Regions from separate parts of the Homo sapiens genome. Here all the other regions are linked to region 1. The links come from fine-mapping of genetic effects on gene expression. A gene starts in region 1. Each other region holds a variant in brackets. All regions are shown on one strand. Distances are between the middles of the regions.

Region 1 (2,765 bases):
ATTACAGGCATGAGCCACCACGCCCGGCCTCTTTTTTTTTTTTTAACCTGGTTTGAAGTGTGAAAGAAGTTTGATTTTTAAAAAAATGTTTACCTGACACCAGGTTTCCAGTAAATTTTCAGAAATATTAGTATGATTTCTTGGAGGAGTATGGTTTCTTGGAGGCAGGCCGGGCGTGGTGGCTCACACCTATAATCCCAGCACTTTGGGAGGCCGAGGCAGGTGGATCACTTGAGGTCAGAGTTCAAGACCAGCCTGGCCAACATGGTGAAACCCTGTCTCCACTAAAAATACAAAAAGTAGCGGGGCGCGGTGGTGGGCGCCTATGGTCCCAGCTTCTCGGGAGGCTGAGGCAGGAGAATCACTTGAACCAGGAGGCAGAGACTGCAGTGAGCTGAGATCACGCCACTGCACTCCAGTCTGGGCGACAGAGCGATACTCCATCTCAAAACTAACAATACAAACAAACAAAAAAGAATGGGGATGCAGATGAGAAAAAACAAGCAATCATCGAACAAGCCACCTCAAGGTGGAGTACCATGGAACGTCAGAGGCTTCATGAAAGTCAGAAAAACTGAAGAGCACTTGGGGTTAGGAATTCAAAGGTGGGCAGCTCTTATACAGACCTTGCCCTCAACAAACCTATAGTCTAATGAGAGTCGATAAACACTTAGCAAAGTATTAATAATATCCATGGAGTGTGTAAAGCCCTAGTAAAGGAGGTATACTGGTGGTAAGAAATACCTAATTTTGTGAGGTGGGGGAATGGAAGGATGGGGGAAGGATTGGGTGGTCAGGGACGCGGTTTAAGCTGAGACTTGAAAGATGATGGAGTAGTTGACCAGGCGGTCAGAGGAACTTGGAAGCGCTATGATTCGGGATCCCACAGAGAGAGATTCAAGGGCACCTTGGCAGATATGGTTTACAGTGACCTCTGGTGTGACAGATCATTAGCATTGTGAACATGCAAAAACGATGAAGTTCTGCCCTTCATTTCACCAGAGCTGGGCTCGCCTCAAATTCCTGGTTCCTTATTCCCGCTGGCTCCCACCAACTGAAAAGCAGAGGTGGCTCGCAAGCGGCGGGGCTCTGCCCTAGATTGCCAGTAGGCGCTCGACTCACATCCAGCTCCACCCCGGGAGATGCCCCAGAAGCCCCGCCCACGTCCAGGCACGTTCTTCTGGGGCTAGTCGCAGGGGCCGCCCCGGCACCGGCGCTCACGTGACCCGAGGTGTGACGTAGGAGGAAGGAGACGCCATTAGAGGGAGGCAGAGAGGGATCGTTCTTCGCTTTTCCTCCGGTGCCTGACGTGGTGGGCTGGGGCCCTTCATTCTCGGACTTTCCCTCAGCCCTTCCAGGCCTCGCCCGAGGAGGGCGTGGGGACAGCGCCCGGGTCGGCGGGGCCGGGGCGGTGGGGGCTGAGCCGGCCGTGGCTGTGAAGGCGCTGCCGCGGCTGTCGGGAGGGCGGCGCGACACTCGGGCTCGGGCGGCCGGGAAGCGACGGGATGGCTGCGGCCGGCGGCGGCGGCGGCGGGGCGGCGGCGGCGGGCCGAGCCTACTCGTTCAAGGTGGTGCTGCTGGGGGAAGGCTGCGTGGGGAAGACGTCGCTGGTGCTGCGCTACTGCGAGAACAAGTTTAACGACAAGCACATCACCACTCTGCAGGTGCGGACCTCGGGGAGCGGGAGGGGGCGCCTCAGGGCCCCTACCCCTCCGGGGCTGGGGAAACTTTGCCGCCCTGGTCCCCTGGATGTAGGCTGGCAAATCTCAGGCCTGTCATCTCCGCCTTCGGTTTACCTTTCCGAATTCGCCCTGGGGAATCACCAGGTCGGGGCAGCCTGTAGACGCGAGGACAGGCTGTTGGGAGGGAAGTGGAAGGGCCCTGAAAAGTCCCCAGTGTTCCCCGTGGTGGCTGCGCACGTTGTGGTCTCCGTCCGTGGGCTGTTTTTTCCCATTTACTGCAGTTCCTGGGTCCCAGGTGTCAGTGTTGCAGTCTCCAAATGTTAGCTCCTTTTCTTTCTTTCAGAATTAGGAACTTAGCTGCGTATTTGATTTTGCGAATTAGGTGATTTGTAACTTCAGCGCTTACTGATGACTAAGTGTTTATGCAAGTTCCATTTTGTCCTGAGTAACAGGAATGGCAAAAGAGCCATCTCTGGAGGTTTTTTGAAATGACCGCTTGCCTAGGCGTGTTACGCAGTTTCATTGCAGCCTGCGTGGGTCTGACTTGCGGGTCACTCATATTCTGCGAGGTCGATTGACCCACGCTGAAACATCAAGTGAATACTGGCCAACAATTGGTCCCCAGACTAAAAGCCGCTGCTGTTACTCAGTTTCTTTACCTGTAAAATAAAAGGTCGGCTTTCTTCCACAGGTACATTGGAAAGGTGTTAAAATGTTATCATTGATTGAGAGTGAAGCCAGGCCTTTGAGGGAGTTGTACTCACCCCACCTCTCCCAGAGAAATCAGTTTTGATGTTATTAGGAGAAATTTATCCTACTAATTTGACTTACCAATTTGGTCAAAGGCAGTAAAGTCTAGTGGACTTTTGAGCCTGATTGTCCAGGTTCATGTCTCACCTCCATCCATTTAACTAGCTGTGTCATACTGGGTAAGTTACTTAACCTGTCTGTGCCTGTTTCTTCTGTTAAAATGGCCATAATAGTAGTATCTAGCTCATAGGGTTGTCAGGATAAATATACAGAAAAAGCACTGATGACCTGGTCCAGTGTAAGTTGTCTGCCTTTAATTACCGCCCCAACTTG
Region 2 (2,765 bases), 40 kb before region 1:
ACAATAGCATCAAAAAGAATAAAATACTTAGGAATAAACCTAACCAAGGAGGTAAAACACTTGTATGCTGAAAATTATAGAACATTGCTGAAAGAATTGAGAGAAGACACAAATAAATTAAAAGACATCTTGTGTTCATGGATTGGAAGACAATATTGTTAAGATGTTCATACTACCCAAAGCAATCTGCAGATTCAGTACAATCCCTATCAGAATTCCAGTGGGGGCCAGACACAGTGCCTCATACCTGTAACCCCAGCTCTTTGGGAGGCCAAAGCGGGCGGATCTCTTGAGCCCAGGAGTTTGAGACCAACATAGGCGACATGGTGAAACTCATTTCTACAAAAAAATACAAAAATTAGCTGGGTATGGTGGCATACTCCTGTAGCCCCAGCTACTCAGGAGACTAAGCTGGGAGGATCTATTGAGCCTGGGAGGTTGAGGCTGCAGTGAGCCATGATTCCACCACTACACTCGAGCCGGGGCAACACATCAAGACCCTGTCTCAAAAAAAGGAAAAAAATTCCAATGACATTTGTTGCAAAATAGAAAAATTCATCCTAAAATTCATATGGAATCTCAAGGGACCCTAAATGGCTAAAACAATTTTGAAAAAGAGTAACAAAATTGGATGACTCACATTTTCTTATTTCAAAAATTATTACAATGAGACAGTAATCAAACGGATGTGTTCTGTCATAAAGACAGACAAATAGACCAAGGGAATAGAATAGAGAGCCCAGAAATAAATTATCTTACATATGGGCAAATGACGTTCAACAAAGGTACCAATAATAGACAATGCCAAAGGATACTTTCTTCAACAAATGATATTGGAATACTGGGTATCTGCATGTAAAAGAATGAAATTGGATCCTTACCTTACGCTGTATACAAAAATTAACTCAAAGTGGGTTAAAGACATTAACATAAGATCTTGGCTGAGTGCAGTGGCTCACTCCTGTAATCCCAGCACTTTGGGAGGCCAAGAAGGGTGGATCGCTTGAGTCCAAGAGGTTGAGACCAGCCTGGGAAACATTACAAAACCCTGTCTCTACAAAAAGTACAAAAAATTAGCTGGACATGATGGCGTGCACCTGTGGTCCCAGCTCTTCAGAAGACTGAGATGGAAGGATCTCTTGAGTCCAGGAACAGAGGTTGCAGCGAGCCAAGATCGTGCCACTGGCTGCACTCCAGCCTGGGTGACAGAGCAAGACCCCATCTGAAAAAAAAAGAAAAAAGCCCATTAACATAAGATCTAAAACTTTAAAACTCCTAGAAGAAAACACAGGAGAAAGCTTCATGACATTTGACTTTGCAATGATGTTTTGGATATGACAACAAAAGCACAGGCAAGAAAAGCAAAAATAGACAAATGAGACTACCTTAAATTTAAAAATTGTCGTGCATCAAAGAATACAATCAGAGTGAAAGACACCGTATAGAATGGGGAAAATAATTACAAATCATATCTCTGATAAGGAGCTAATATTTAGAATATAAAGAACTACAACTCAACAACTGAAAAATTAAAAAATCCAATTAAAATATAGGCACAGAACTTGAATAGATGTTTCTCCAAAGATGATATACAAATATATAAGCATATGAAAATGCACTCAACATCACTAATTTTTAGAGAAATGCAAATCAAAACCACACAAAGATGTCACCCACACCCATTAGGAT[G/A]ACAACTCAAAAAAAAAAAAAAAAAGGAAAATAACAAATGTGGTCAAGTATGTGGAGAAATGAAACCTGTGCACTGTGTTGGGATGTGAAACAGTGTGACCACTATAGAAAACAGTTTAGAGGTTCCCCAAAAAATTAAAAATAGAACTACCATATGATCTAGTGATTCCACTTCTGGATGTATATCCAAAAGAATTGAAAGCAGGGTCCCAAAGAGATAGCAGGGTCTCAATCCCATGCTCATGGCATTGCTATTCACTACCCTCAAGAGATGGAAGCAACCCAAATGTCCCTCATGGATGAATGAATAAATAAAATGTGTTATATACATACAGTGAAATATTATTCAGCCTTAAAAAGGAAGGAAATTGTGTCACATTCTACAACATGGATGAAGCTTCATTGAGTACATTATGCTTAATGAAATAAGCCAGTCACAAAAAGATAAATGCTATATGATTCTGCTTATATGAGGTATCTAAAATTCATAGAAACGGAAAGTAGAATGGTGGTTACCAGGAGATAAGGGGAAGGGGGAAAACAGATGTTTAATGGGTACAAAGTTTCAGACTGAGGGGTGAAAAATTTCTAGAGATCCGTTTCACAGGAATGTGAATATACTTAACACTATTGAACTGTGCAATTAAAAATGGTTCAGATTGTAAATTTTATGTTTTTTTACCACAATTCAAATAAAATAGGTAAATACAAAAGAGAACTCTTCCTAACTATGGTCAAAGAAAGTGATGCAACTACAGAGGAGTCAGAGAGATGCTGGTTTTGAAGACGGAGGCAGGAGATTATGAACCAAGGAACATGGGTGGGCTCTAGAAGCTGGAAAAGGCCAAGAAATGTGTTCTTCCTTATAGCTTCCAGAAAGGATCACAGTGCTGCTAACAGCTTGATTTTAGGAATTCTGACTTACAACACTAAGATAATAAATTTTTGTTGTTTTCAGCCACTAAATTTGTGGTAATTTGTTACAGCAGCCACAGAAAACTAATACACCATGTCAGCTTTGAGTGGCAGAGTAATGAAGCACAGACTCTGGAGCTCAACTGCTTAGGTTCAAATGC
Region 3 (2,765 bases), 31 kb after region 1:
TTAAGGTTGATTTTTTTTTTTTACAATAGATGTCCAGTTCTATTAATACTACTGTTTTTTGAAAATATTCTTTCTTCATTGAATAACCTTGGCAACCATGTCAAAAATCAAGAGACCATATCTACGGGGTCTATTTCTGGACTGTGTTTTTTTGGTTCCACTGATCTATTTCTCCTATCATTGTCTCACTGTTTTGATTAGTGTAGCTTTATACTAGTTCTTGCAATCAGGTGGTGTGAGTCTTTCTGCTGTGTTCTTCGAAGTTCCCTCATCTTAAACTCCATTATTCTTCAAATATCGCTGTGGTCAGGGACAGTGGCTCACACCTATAAGCCCAGTGCTTTATGAGGCCAAGGCCATAGGATCACTTGAGCCCAGGAGTTTGAGACCAGCCTGGGCAACATAGTGAGACCCCCATCTCTAGCAAAAAAAAAAAACTCAGCCAGGCATGGTGTTGCATACCTGTAATTCCAGCTACTCAGGGACTGAGGCAGGAGGATCAACTGAGCCCAGGAGTTAGGGGCTGCAGTGAGTAAGTGATGATCACACCACTGCACATCCAGCCTGGGTATCAAAGCGAGACCCTGTCTCTCAAAACTAAAATAAAAAGAATCATTTACTTAAAAGTATTACATTTCTAGTTGAAGAATAAATCCTGCCCCCTAAATATTACTTGGAATAATTTGAACTTCTTTGACATATTTCTAAGTGTGTTTGGAAAATCTTAAGGATTATACTTGTACGCAGGCAATTGTTCAGAGCAAAAAAATTTTTTTCTTTATTGATATCACTGTGGCCATTATACCACTGGATAAATAAGCTTACTACTTGATACTAGTTTTTGACACTAGTTTTTTAAAACATGCAGGTGAAGCTGTTTTAGTGAGCTGACCCAATGTTCATTATATTTAGTTTCTTTGTTGGTCGAAAGTCAGAAATAGCTATCATAGTGTTATACTGAAATTTTAGAAAGAGAAAACACAAATATTGTGGTCCTAATAATGTTTGCTTTCTCTCTGTCTTAGGGATGATAGAAACAGCACAAGTGGATGAGAGAGCAAAAGGCAATGGCTCTAGTCAGCCGGGAACTGCAAGGCGAGGTGTACAGATTATTGATGATGAACCTCAAGCCCAGACCAGTGGTGGAGGGTGCTGTTCTT[C/T]TGGATAACTGTTCACGCCTAAGAAATTAAAAGACAGAACAAAACTGTGGATCATTGCCCTCAACATGAAGACTGCCATATTCCAAGTCACATTATTTTACCAATGGAATTATAGAATTAACAGTATTTTAAATTACGTTTATAACACTGCAGAGACCTTAAGTGCTAAACTTAGTGGAGTTTGTGACCAGAGAATTGGCATTTTCTACAAATGTTTTTTTTTGTTTTTTTTTTGTTTTTTTTTGTTTTTTTTTGAGACGGAGTCTCGCTCTGTCACCCAGGCTGGAGTGCACTGGCTTGATCTCGGCTCACTGCAAGCTCCACCTCCCAGGTTCACGCCATTCTCCTGCCTCAGCCTCCCGAGTAGCTGGGACTATAGGCGCCCACCACGACGCCCGGCTAATTTTTTGTATTTTTAGTAGAGACGGGGTTTCACCAGGTTAGCCAGGATGGTCTCGATCTCCTGACCTTGTGATCCGCCCGCCTCGGCCTCCCAAAGTGCTGGGATTACAGGCGTGAGCCACCGTGCCCGGCCTACAAATGTTAACAAAGCAATTACCAATGGCCTTTTTACATATTTTTTCTTTAATGAGGAATAATATGCATGTAGAAAAGACCTACTTAAAGTCTTCATTTATATTCTTTCAAATCAAATCTTTATTTAATAACTTATATATGTTGTTGGAATGGTTACATTTTTGCAGCCCTTTGTATTTTGTGGTAGTTGAAATTGTATCACTTCTAAACAGCAAACTGTTTTTGTTTTTAATTAGCAGATATCTGAAGTACTATTTTTGCAGGGTTTGCACAGGCCCGTAACTGTCTACTACTTTGATATAATCTGTATACATCCTGTATGCTGAGCTGGTAAAATACATTGTAAATTACATATTAAATATTTTATCTGCTTTTACAAGCGCAAGGTGCAAAAATATATACAATAGTCTCATTGATGACTGTAAAGTGAATTAACATTTGGTGATTATGCCTAGCTTTTTTGACTAATATAAAGATCATAGCTCCCCTTCACTTCTGTCTTAACTTGAACATGGCGTGTTTAAATTTTCATACATACTTTACTTGAATTATTGCTGTTGTCACATATTTTTGCCTCTGTGAGTTCATCTGATGATTGAGCAGTAGCATTTGCCTTTTGGGTTTTTTGTTTGTTATTATAGAAGAGATGACTTCTGCTGATTTTGCTTTAGAATGGTTACCTTAGAAGAATTTGGGTGGCTCATGTTGAATTTCACTTCTGCAATAGCTTTCATTTTCTCATAGGCTTTATAAGAGATGGGTTCAGTGGTATGAGCAGAGGAAGAGATCCCAGATAGTAGCCAGTTAACCAAGACTCATTCATATAGCACGTAGTTTATGTTCCTGAGGCAGCACTTTTAGATCCTTTGTGAGCAAGTTCTATTTGTTCATTGCTTGCCAGAGATGAACACAGAATGTTCTGTTTCATTTTACAAGAACTATCCTGAGTTTCTGTGGATGGAAACATTACATGTAATGCAGATATAGTGAACACTGGAAAGATTTATTAAAGAATTATATTTGTGTATACTTTATAAATTAGTCCCTCATTAGATTTTTTTTTCTTAA

Evidence for each region. PIP is the estimated chance that this variant, and not a neighbour inherited with it, causes the effect.
Region 2: its variant is fine-mapped to the expression of RAB21 in whole blood (TOPMed, PIP above 0.99).
Region 3: its variant is fine-mapped to the expression of RAB21 in tibial artery (GTEx, PIP above 0.99). The same link has a PIP of 0.9 or more in aorta, fibroblasts and sigmoid colon.

Annotation. Positions count from the first base shown.
Region 1 is chr12:71,753,625-71,756,389 of GRCh38, forward strand. It overlaps RAB21 (RAB21, member RAS oncogene family), which reads left to right and starts at 1,239. Exons shown (of 7, transcript NM_014999.4): 1 at 1,239-1,664. The coding sequence starts at 1,506. RefSeq lists enhancers at 1,011-1,300, 1,941-2,130 and a silencer at 1,281-1,560.
Region 2 is chr12:71,713,890-71,716,654 of GRCh38, forward strand. All of the region lies in intron 1 of LOC107984530 (a long non-coding RNA gene), which reads left to right. Among named protein-coding and RNA genes, the nearest start is that of TMEM19, 29 kb to the left of the region's middle. The variant G/A (reference allele first, on the strand shown) is at 1,690.
Region 3 is chr12:71,784,506-71,787,270 of GRCh38, forward strand. RAB21 (RAB21, member RAS oncogene family) reads left to right here. Exons shown (of 7, transcript NM_014999.4): 7 at 1,026-2,765. The coding sequence ends at 1,168. Among named protein-coding and RNA genes, the nearest start is that of RAB21, 31 kb to the left of the region's middle. The variant C/T (reference allele first, on the strand shown) is at 1,161.